Linked DNA regions of Homo sapiens: region 2 is linked to region 1. Evidence: fine-mapped expression QTL. Tissue or cell type: whole blood. Region 1 holds a variant in brackets; the other region holds the start of a gene. All regions are shown on one strand. Distances are from middle to middle.

Region 1 (5,141 bases):
CTTAGCATTGCACAGAGCTCCCAACATAGCACTGGCATAGCTTGCATTCCAGCAAGCATCTATTGAGTGTCTACTGCATGGAAAATTCCAGAAGTTTCAAATCTAGTTGGGGCTTAGATGGGTCCTCACATACCTGTGTTCTCTCTGTGTTCTGGATAAGGGCTAAAGCAGGTTCAGACCAGAGTGTGTGTGTCTGTTTGTGGTGTGTGGGCGTGGGAGAGGGTTGTAACCAGGGCACCCTTTCTGCTTCTGCCCAGTAAAGACCCATCAGCCTGTGCTTGGGGCAGAGAGGTGTGGCCCTGTCTTCCGGGGACACCAGGCCCTGAGCCCAGGTGCTGTGCTCCCCCTGCAGGCTGCGTCCAGTTCCTGCAATATTATTACCAGAGGGGCTGCCTCTACCGGCTGCGGGCCCTGGGGGAGAGGAACCACCTGGATCTCACAGTGGGTGAGTAGCTGGGCCTGGGTTGGAGCCGGGGCAGGTACTGGACCTGCCAGCTCCCCACACCGGGAGTGCAGCCCTGCGAGCACCTCCCATACAGCGGAGCCAGGCCGCTGCCCTTTATCCGAAGCGCCTTCCAGAATTCATCCTGGATTCTGTTTCAGCTGCCAAGTGCCAGGCCAGCTGCATACCAGGCCCCGAGGGCAGGGCCTCTGTCTCAGCCTCTGGAAGTGTCTATTTTTTTGTGTGTGTTCTAGAATACACACACACAAATTAGCCATTTGTGTGTAACATGTCTACATACCAACACGTATAAGTATATAAATGCATGTACACGGGGGAGACATGCCTCACTCTGAAGCCATAGGAGTGCCAGCCAGAAAAGTGAGGAGACACCTCATTGAGAATTTCAGGGGAAACTGTTTTTAATACAACTCTGCTATCTTTTTTTTTTTTTTTTTTTTTTTTGAGACGGAGTCTCACTCTTGCCCAGGCTGCATTGCAGTGGCACGATCTCTATTCACTGCAACCTCCGCCTCCCGGGTTCAAGTGATTCTCCCGCCTCAGCCTCCTGAGTAGCTGGGATTACAGGCATGTGCCACCACGCCCGGCTAATTTTTGTATTTTTAGTAGAAATGGGGTTTCACCTTGTTGGCCAGGCTGGTCTCAAACTGCTGGCCTCAAGTGATCTGCCCACCTTGGCCTCCCAACGTGCTGGGATTATAGGCGTGGGCCACTGCACCTGGCCAACTCTGCTGTCTTTTGACATAGTCATTTCCATCAAATTACTCTCCTAAGTAGGTCCTCCTGTCTCAAGACTCGATAGAACTAATGCATGTGAAAATTCATTATAAAATGCAAAACCCTGTGCAGATTAAAGAAATTAGTAACAACATAGCGCCCAGTGTCTGTGTGTTGTCACCTGGCTCTTGGTGGCTTGAAGAGAGAGAGCAGTCAGGCCAGGTGACAGGGTTGCTATTGTCATAGTGAATGCCCACCCAGCTATGACAGGTGAGGGCTGACCCCCCGCATGTGTGACTGTCCCTGGCTCATCTTAGGGTGACTGGTGTGGCTGGGGGTGGGCGTCTGGTGGAGCTGTGGGGGCAGCGGACCCCCTCAGCGGGTCCTTTTTCTTCCCTCCTCTCCACAGAAGGGTTCCAGTCCTGGATGTGGCGGGGCCTCACCTTTCTCCTGCCCTTCCTCTTCTGTGGCCATGTGAGTCCCCCTGGAGTTTGTGGGTATCTCCTGTCTGGGCTGACCCCCAGGAACAGAAGGTCTTCAGGCCTTGCCCTCCTTCTCCATCCGTCCCCATGCTGGGGCCCACAGCATCCTGGGGCCGGGGCAGCCTCTGGGCCCAGGGATGCCAAGGCAGGAGCCAGAACTGACCTAGCTCTGCCCTGGCCTCGGGTGCCTGCATTTCATTTTGGGGGTGTCTGTCAGTGTTGTGGGTAGTTGATACCCAAAGTTGGGTGAGGGGCCTGGCCATCACCCTGGCTTTCTACGTGGCCGGCCAGGGGAGTCTGGTGGGTGAGCAGCGCCTGCCTTCCTCTCCAGTTCTGGCAGCTCTACAATGCCGTCACGCTGTTTGAGCTCTCCAGCCACGAGGAATGCAGAGAATGGCAGGTATGGGGGGTGGGGGCATGCTCGGGGGAGGTTCCCGGGAGGGCTGGGGTGGCAGGGATGGGGTGTATGTGTGGCATGCTGGGGTGCGGATTCCTGGGGAGGGCTGGGATGGCAGATGTGGGGGTGGGGTGTGTGCGTGTGTGTGGTGTGCTGTGGGGAGGTTCCTGGGGCGGGCTGGGCTGGCAGGTGTGGGGTGTTGTGGGGGGCCTGCTTGGCGGGAGGCTTCTGGAAGGGCTAGGGGTGGAGCCTCTCCCAATCTGTGGATCCCAAGGAGGTTCGCCCCATCGAGCCCTTCCCAGGCCCTGCCCAAGCCTGAGGCCTCACCCTTCCCCCAGGTCTCCTGAATCTCTGCCTTCGATGGCAAAACCCTGCAGTTTGGGAGTTTGGGGGCAGCTGTGCTGGAGATTCTGGGGTGCTGGGGGCAGGGGTTCAGCAGGGCAGATGCCCCAGCCTCGCCCTCCTCTCTGGACTCCCCCAGGTGTTCGTACTGGCGTTCACCTTCCTCATCCTCTTCCTCGGCAACTTCCTGACCACGCTCAAAGTCGTGCATGCCAAGCTCCAGAAGAACAGAGGCAAGACAAAGCAGCCGTGAGCCTCGGGCTCCTGTGCCCTCGGCCCGGACTTCAGACTGCAGGGGGCTCCCGGGCTCCTTCCCAGCAGCCCTCTCAGGCCCGTGGCATCGCTGGGAGAGGGCCCAGGCCCTGGTCCCCCAGTGGACCCCAGTGGTCTAGAGGAATGTGAGCCCCGCCTGTCCGCACAGTGTCCGCCCACCTATTTATGACATATTTAATGCTGGGTCCCCCATCGTCCCTGGAACCCGAGGCCTCACTCCTGTGCTTGAAGGTGGCTGAGGCCGGGCCAGTCTTCCTGGGGATGGGGCCTGAAGCCTCAGGGAGCCCCTCTGTTCCCACTCCTGTCATTTGAACCCCTCTGGGTGGGGTTTGGATGTGCCTCGCGGGGTTGGATTTATGCTGACCTGCTACTTACCAGGCCCAGGCTGGGGTGGTGTGAACCCTCAGTGTCCTGTGGCGCCCCCACCCCGGGGCCACTCTGCTTCTGCTGTGAGCCCCCTCCTCGCCCACCCCGCCACGTGGTGAGGGTTATTTTAAGTTCTCAGAGACCCAC[CGCGTCT/C]GCCTCGTGCTCTTCTTGCCCCTGGAGCGCTGGGGGCATCCTGAGTCAGGCTGTGAGAAGATTCGCCACCAGAGGGCGCCCCGGGCCCTGGGTCGTCCAAGGGGACAAGGACGTTCCCGTCTGTGCTTCGGGGTTCCCTGACCCCCCCATCCTGCAGCCCACCTTCCTGCAGTGTCGTGGCAGGTACTTGGAGAGTGGGACCAAGACCCTTGGCCCCTGTGGAGGGGAACCACCTCCCCCCTCCTTCCCAGAGCTTCTGGATGTTGTGGGAGGGAGGTGGGGGTGCCTGGCAGGCTCACCCCCAGGGGCCGCACCCTGAGGCGGGGTCAGAGCCACTGGGCATCGCTTGGGTGAGATTCTGCATTCGACGGGAGGCAGAGAGGCCACCAGGTTTGGCTGAGTGCTCTGCCCCACCATTCATATATGGGCCTCAGCTCCCCCTAACTGTGGCCCTACAAATCCCTAGGCCAGACCTCACAGCAGTGCCCACAGGCATGCCTTGTTTAGCCCTCCTCAAGGAATTTTAAAATTTTTAATTACTTTTTTTTTTTTTGAGACAGGGTCTGTTGCCTAGGCGGGAGTGCAGTGGCATCATAGGTCACTGTAGCCTCCGCCTCCAGGGCTCAAGGGATCCTCCCACCTCAGCCTCTGGAGTAGCTGGGACCACAATCACACACCACCATGCCCTGCTCCTTTTTTTTTTTTTTTTTTGAGATGGGAGTCTCGATCTGTTACCCAGGCTGGAGTGCAGTGACACAATCTCAGCTCACTGCAACCTCTGCCTCCCAGGTTCAAGTGATTCTCCTGCCTCAGCCTCCCGAGTAACTGGGACTACAGGCGCGTGCCACCATGCCTGGCTTTTGTTTTGTTTTGTTTTGTTTTGTATTTTTAGTAGAGACAGGGTTTCACCATGTTTGCCAGGATAGTCTCGATCTCTTGACCTTGTGATCTGCCTGCCTCAGCCTCCCAAAGTGCTGGGATTACAGGTGTGAGCCACCATGCCTGGTCACCCTGCTACTTTTTAATACTTTTTAGTAGAGATGGGGTCTCACTATGTTGCCCAGGCTGGTCTCCAACTCATGGGCTCAACTCATCCTCCTATCTTGGCCTCCCAAAGCGCTGGGATTACAGGTGTGAGCCACTGTGCCTGGCCTGATTACATTTTTAAAATGAGATTTCCCCACCCCTACAGTGAGATTCCACATAAAAATCCAGATTTCTGCTTTCCCTAGAAAAACGGACCTGGCAACATTCCCGTGGCACAGGACGCCTACTCTCCAGTTGCCACAGGCCCTGCCACCCCCCTGCCCTTCATTCTGGTCTCCTTTCTGGTCCTTTTTAGGCACCTGCGTTTGCCCTAGATTAGGAGTCAGCTAGCTGTCTGTAAAGGGCCAGATGGCAACTATTTTGAGCTTTATGGGCCAGGTGGTTTGTGGCAGCTACTCTTCACCTGCAGCCCCAGAGCACAAGGCAATGCAGAAAGGAATGGGTGTTGCTGTGTTCCAATAAAACTTTATTTACAAATCAGGCTGTGGCCAGATGTGGCCCACAGGCTGTAGTTGTTGGACCTCTACCGTAGACCATCATGAGGCCTGGGGTTCTTCGAGAACAAGAACTCCTTGGTTGATTCCCCAGGGTACGGCAGGGCCTTGGGAACCTGGGTGGGTTGGGGAGGGTCTCAGAAGGCTCCTTCCTTTGGCAACCTGACTTCTTGGAAGCTCAGGTTTAGCTGACGCCCCAGCACTGGGCCAGGGGGGCTGAGGCAGGAGATATGGGGAAGGCTAGGAGTTGCCTGAAGCCATTATCCCATCTTAGGCGACACCGACTCCTAGGCGCCCTCCAGAGCCAAGCAGCTTGCGACTTCTGGTAGGCACCGGAATCCCCTGGGATGCTTGTTTTAAAAGTCCTGGGCCGGGCACGGTGGCTCACGCCTGTAATCCCAGCACTT
Region 2 (5,144 bases), 63 kb before region 1:
TTTTATGCCCTGGGCTTAGATTATGGTGCATCAGGGCAGCCTTCCACCCTTTAGCACAGAGCTTGGTGTTCCAAAGGCCACAAGGGGTTTTAGACCTTGGACCCTGGACATGTTCCAAGACTCTTTTACATTGTGTCAGACATACAAGCCCTGCCTCAGCTTCTCCCAACACTCAGCTTTTCCCAACACACTACAGCCTCGACCTCTGGAGCTCAAGTGATCCTCCCATCTCAGCCTCCCAAGGAGCTGGGAATACAGGCTTGTACCATAATGCCCGGCTAATTTTTGTATTTTTAGTAGAAATGGGGTCTCACTATGTTGGCCAGGCTGGTCTCCAACTCCTGGCCTCTAGTGATCTGCCCACCTCGGCCTCCCAAAGTGCTGGGATTACAGGCGTGAGCCACCATGCCTGGCCAGAAAGGGTGTCTTTTTAAGAGAGGACACACACAGACATGCACACAGGAAAGAAGACGGTGCAACAGGGTAGAGATTGGGGTGATGCAGCTGCGAGCTAAGGAACGCCAGTGAAGGAGCCCCCCGCCACCACATACACCCACAAGCTATGAGGAGGGAAGGATTCTGCCCAGAGCTTCAGAGGGAGCACTGCTTTGCTGACACCTTCCTCTCAGATTTCTAGATGCCAGAACTGTGAGACAATACATTTCTTTCTTTTCTTTTTTTCTTTCCTTCCTTCCCTCCCTTCCTTCCTCTCTCTCTCTTTTTTTTGAGACTCAGTTTCACTCTTGTTGCCTAGGTTGGAGTGCAATGGCACGATCTCAGCTCACCACAACCTCCACCTCCCTGGTTCAAGTGATTCTCCTGCATCAGCCTCCTGAGTAACTGGATTACAGGCATGTGCCACCACACCTGGCTAATTTTTTTGTGTGTTTTTAGTAGAGATGGGGTTTCTCCATGTTGGTCAGGCTGGTCTTGAACTCCCAACCTCAGGTGATCCTCCTGCCTCAGCCTCCCAAAGTGCTGGGATTACAAGCGTGAGCGACCGCGCCCGGCCTCCTTCTTTCTTTATGAGACTGGGTCTCGCTCTGTTACCCAGGCTGGGGTGCAGTGGTGCAATCATAGCTTACTGCAGCCTTGACCTCCCAGGCCCAAGGAATTCTTGGACCTCAGCCTCCGGAGTAGCTGGGACCACAGGCGCGTGCCACCACACCCAGCTAATCTGTAAATTTTTTGTAGAAACAAGGTCTCCTTATGTTGCCCCCGTTGGTGAGAATACATTTCTATTGTTTAAACTACCCAGGTTGTGGTTATGGCAGCTTTAGCAACGAACACAGGGGGCCGGGCACGGTGGCTCATGCCTGTAATCCTAGCACTTTGGGAGGCCAAGTCGGGCGGATTACTTAAGGTCAGGAGTTCGAGAGCAGCCTGGCCAACACTGCAAAACCCCGCCTCTACTAAAAATACAAAAATTAGCTGGATGTGGTATAACCTGGCTACTCCAGAGGCTGAGGTATGAGACGCACTTGATTCCGGGAGGCGGAAGTTGCAGTGAGCTGAGATCACACCACTGCACTCCAGCCTAGGCGACAGAAAAAAAAAAAAACACCCATAAAAATAGAAGAAAAAAGAAAGATAAAAAAGTAAAGTAACACAGGTGTCATTTGAAACTGAGGCCTGAATGATGAAAAAAAGGCACATCGTATGAAGATTTAGAGGGAAGAAAGTTCCATGCAAGGTCAGGAAGAGAAAAAGCAATGGCTGGAGGGTACGAGTCCAGGGCGGTGAGATAGAAGGGACTGGAAAGCTAGGCAGGGGCAGTTCTTGCAGGACTTGGCAGAGGAGGGGACAGAACTGGATTTAATCAGCTTGGAGGCGGTTGTCCCTTGAGCGACAGAAACAGCTGTTAAGAACGTCACCCAGAGCGTTAGAGGGCAGGAATCTAGGATGTATTAGCTGCAGCACATAATAATGACAACGTGAAATGACCGTGCCCTCTCTGCGCTGCGCCGCCCGGCCCCCGACCTTTTTGGATGGTCGATGTCAGCGCCAGCCTTCCGGGGCGCTGGCCTGGGCTCAAGTCAGGCAATGACCAGGGGCCGGTGAGCTTTCATTTCACCTCCCCCAAATCTCCTTTCCCCAAACTCTAGACACCCCCAAAACACACAATCTAAGTCAAATAATCTCTGCAAATGCAACCTGCAGACAAGTCCCCCAACTCTTCCTGGAAGAGACAGATTCTGGAGGCGCAGAGGCACTGCCAAGGGGGCCGCAACAGACCCCGAAAGACCTTGCGAGCCTGCCATGTCCCGGTCCGGAACGCCGCACGCGGGGCGGGGCGGGGCACATGCGCACGCGCGGCCCCGCCTCCCAGGCGTGGGGCGGGGCGGGCGCCGGGGCGGGGCCGTGACGTCAGTTGCGCGCGTGGCTCTGGCTGCGCAGGAACAGCTGGTGCCTCCGAGGGCGGTCGGCGAGCGCGCGGGCGTGGGGCGCTGGGGGGCCGGTCGGGCAGCGCTGCGGGAGCAGCCGCCGGCACCGCCGCCTTGCACCATCGCATCATGTCCGGGCAGCTGGAGCGTTGCGAGCGCGAATGGCACGAGCTGGAGGGAGAATTTCAAGAACTGCAGGTAGGGCCAGGCCACCTGGTCCCGCAACTCTGCTGCCCGCGGTGCAGCGCCTTGCCCTTCCTGAGCCCCCCGGCCCGGGCGGTGGGGACAGTCAGGGCCTAGGGAGTGCCCCGGAGAGGCCCTGGGGGCGGACGGGAGGCATGGACCAGCCCCCTCCCATCACCCGGCGCTTCAGCTCTTCGTCCACGTGGGGCGCCGGGTCGCAGCCCCCTCTTCCGCCGCCCTCCCACTGGCTCTCTGCTCCACGCACCCCCTTCGCTGCAGAAAGTTGGTCTGTGGCCTCTGAGGCAAGTTCCAGGCGTGTTCATCTGTGGGGGTGGTTCAAAGAGAACAGCCCAGCCCCCACCTCTGCAGGGTCTCCCCAGATCTCACCCCGCCCCCTCCCATCTGCTTTTGGTAGCTCAGCTCCCACCCCGTGCTCTGGCGGGGCAGCACTATCCTGCAGCTCTGTTTTGGGAGGTGTACTTAAGAGCTGTTCACCTTGAACCTCTAGGTTGTGCTTGGGGATTAGGGACCCCTATTTCCTGTCTTTGGGGGCTCTGACGCTGCTGCAGGCTGATTTTGGCGTGGAGAGCATCTGTCAGTTCGGACAGCTGAGTAGCCTCACCCAGTGATAGGGGAAACTCCCAGCTCTATCCTTCTGGCCCGGAGCCTTACACGGGGTGGAGTGAGGGCGGGTGTAAGGCGGGGGTCCCCTGAGAGAATGGCATTGCTGCTGGGTGTGGGGAGCGGTCCTGGCAGCAGTTGTTCCTGCTAAGAGGTTCAGAGAGGCCCCAGCTACCTACCGTGTTGACTAGAGACGCCTCAGGAAACCTTGGGGTTGACCAAGAGGGACTCGGTGACTATTTTTGAAGACAGGGCTGTTCCCTCTCCAGTCACGGGATTGTTTTTCGGGGGGTTGGCTTTGCCTGAAATTACATTGCACACTATCACCCCAGTCCTCTCATTTGGAGCAGTGACATTGTCCCTGTCCATGTACCTCTTGTCTGCAGTTCAGTTGGCCTCCTACAGTGTGCAGAGGGGAGAGGAGGTTGCCAAGGGTGTCTCTGATGGGTCTTTCTAGACACGTGGTTGTAGATTCTGATCAATAGACAGAGGGTTGCTGGAGAGCCGGGGCAGGAATGGGGGTGCCCTTTCAGGCATGAATAGAGGGGAAGGGACCTAGACACATCTCGACCTGTCCAGCATGTGTAGGTTGATGCCTTCTCTTCTAGGGCCTGGGTCCCATCCGGTTCTCAGGGGACTGTTTTGGCTCCACTCCCACGGAGAAGACTCAGCCACTTCTTGTTTTGTTTTGTTTTGTTTTGTTTTTGTGACAGAGTCTCACTGTCGCCCAGGCTGGAGTGCAGTGGCGTGATCTCGGCTTACTACAGCCTCCGCCTCCCGGGTTCGAGCCATTCTCTGCCTCAGCCTCCTGAGTAGCTGGAATTACGGGTGTGCGCCACCGTGCCCGGCTAATTTTTTTGTGTTTTAGTAGAGATAGGGTTTCACTATGTTGGCCAGGCTTCTGACCTCAGGTGATTCACCCACCTCGGCCTCCCAAAGTGCTGAGATTACAGGCATGAGCCACTGTGCCTGGCCCTCAGCCACTTCTTTTTTTTTTTTTTTTTTTTTTTGAGATAGAGTCTTGCTCTGTCACCAGACTTGAGTGCAGTGGCACGATCGTGGCTCACTGCAACCTCCGCCTCCCGGATTCAAGCGATTCTCCTGCCTCAGTCTCCCAAGTAGCAGAGATTATAGGTGCGCGCCACCATGCCCAGCTAATTTTTGTATTTTTAGTAGAGACAGGGTTTCACCATGTTGGCCAGGATGGTCTCAATCTCTTGACCTCGTGATCTGCCTGCCTCGGCCTCCCAAAGTGCTGGGATTACAGTAGTGAGCCACCGTGCCTGGTCCTCAGCCACTTCTTAATGCTTTGTCTTACTGGGCTCGGAGGTCATGGTCAGCTGTGGAACCAAGTGGGTGTTAGGGTTGGGAATGGGAGAAGAGAAGAGGTTTGCTGTGTGAAGCTTGTGTTGTTCATAATTCCTGTCCCTTGCTTTGCCTTAGACAAGGAGGAGGAGGGGGAAGAGTCTTAACACTTCAGAGTGAGGCCCAGCGCGGCGGCTCATGCCTGTAATTCCAGAACTTTGGGAGACCGAGGCGGGTGGATCACAAGGTTTGGAGTTTGAGACCAGCCTGGCCAACACAGTGAGACCCTGTCTCTACTAAAAATGCAAAATTAGCTGGGTGTGGTGGCATGTACCTATAATCCCAGATCCTCGAGTGGCTGAGGCAGGAATTGCTTGAAACTGGGAGGGGGAGGTTGCAGTGAGACAAGACTGTGCCATTGCACTCCAGCCTGGGCAACAGAGCAAGACTCCGTCTCAAAAACAAAACAAAACAAAAAACAGCAACAACACTTAAGAGCTGTGCAATTAATGCAATTAACAGCAATTAGATAGCAAGTCTTGGCAGGCAGAGGTTGCAAAGGAGTTGTTTGACTCTTTCTTAGGACTTGGTCCTCAGATGCTGAGGTATGTTAGGGACAAAGGGATTGGGAATCAATTCTTGATTTTGTTC

Evidence for each region. PIP is the estimated chance that this variant, and not a neighbour inherited with it, causes the effect.
Region 2: it holds the start of TMEM120B, and the variant in region 1 is fine-mapped to the expression of TMEM120B in whole blood (TOPMed, PIP above 0.99).

What each region holds. Positions count from the first base shown.
Region 1 is chr12:121,773,069-121,778,209 of GRCh38, forward strand. It overlaps TMEM120B (transmembrane protein 120B), which reads left to right. Exons shown (of 12, transcript NM_001080825.2): 9 at 353-445; 10 at 1,590-1,654; 11 at 1,994-2,062; 12 at 2,541-5,141. The coding sequence ends at 2,654. RHOF (ras homolog family member F, filopodia associated) reads right to left here. Exons shown (of 5, transcript NM_019034.3): 5 at 4,686-5,141. Among named protein-coding and RNA genes, the nearest start is that of RHOF, 18 kb to the right of the region's middle. RefSeq lists silencers at 214-263, 1,915-2,209. The variant CGCGTCT/C (reference allele first, on the strand shown) is at 3,188.
Region 2 is chr12:121,710,383-121,715,526 of GRCh38, forward strand. It overlaps TMEM120B (transmembrane protein 120B), which reads left to right and starts at 2,370. Exons shown (of 12, transcript NM_001080825.2): 1 at 2,370-2,582. The coding sequence starts at 2,514. RefSeq lists silencers at 2,212-2,471, 2,482-2,531, 2,712-2,841.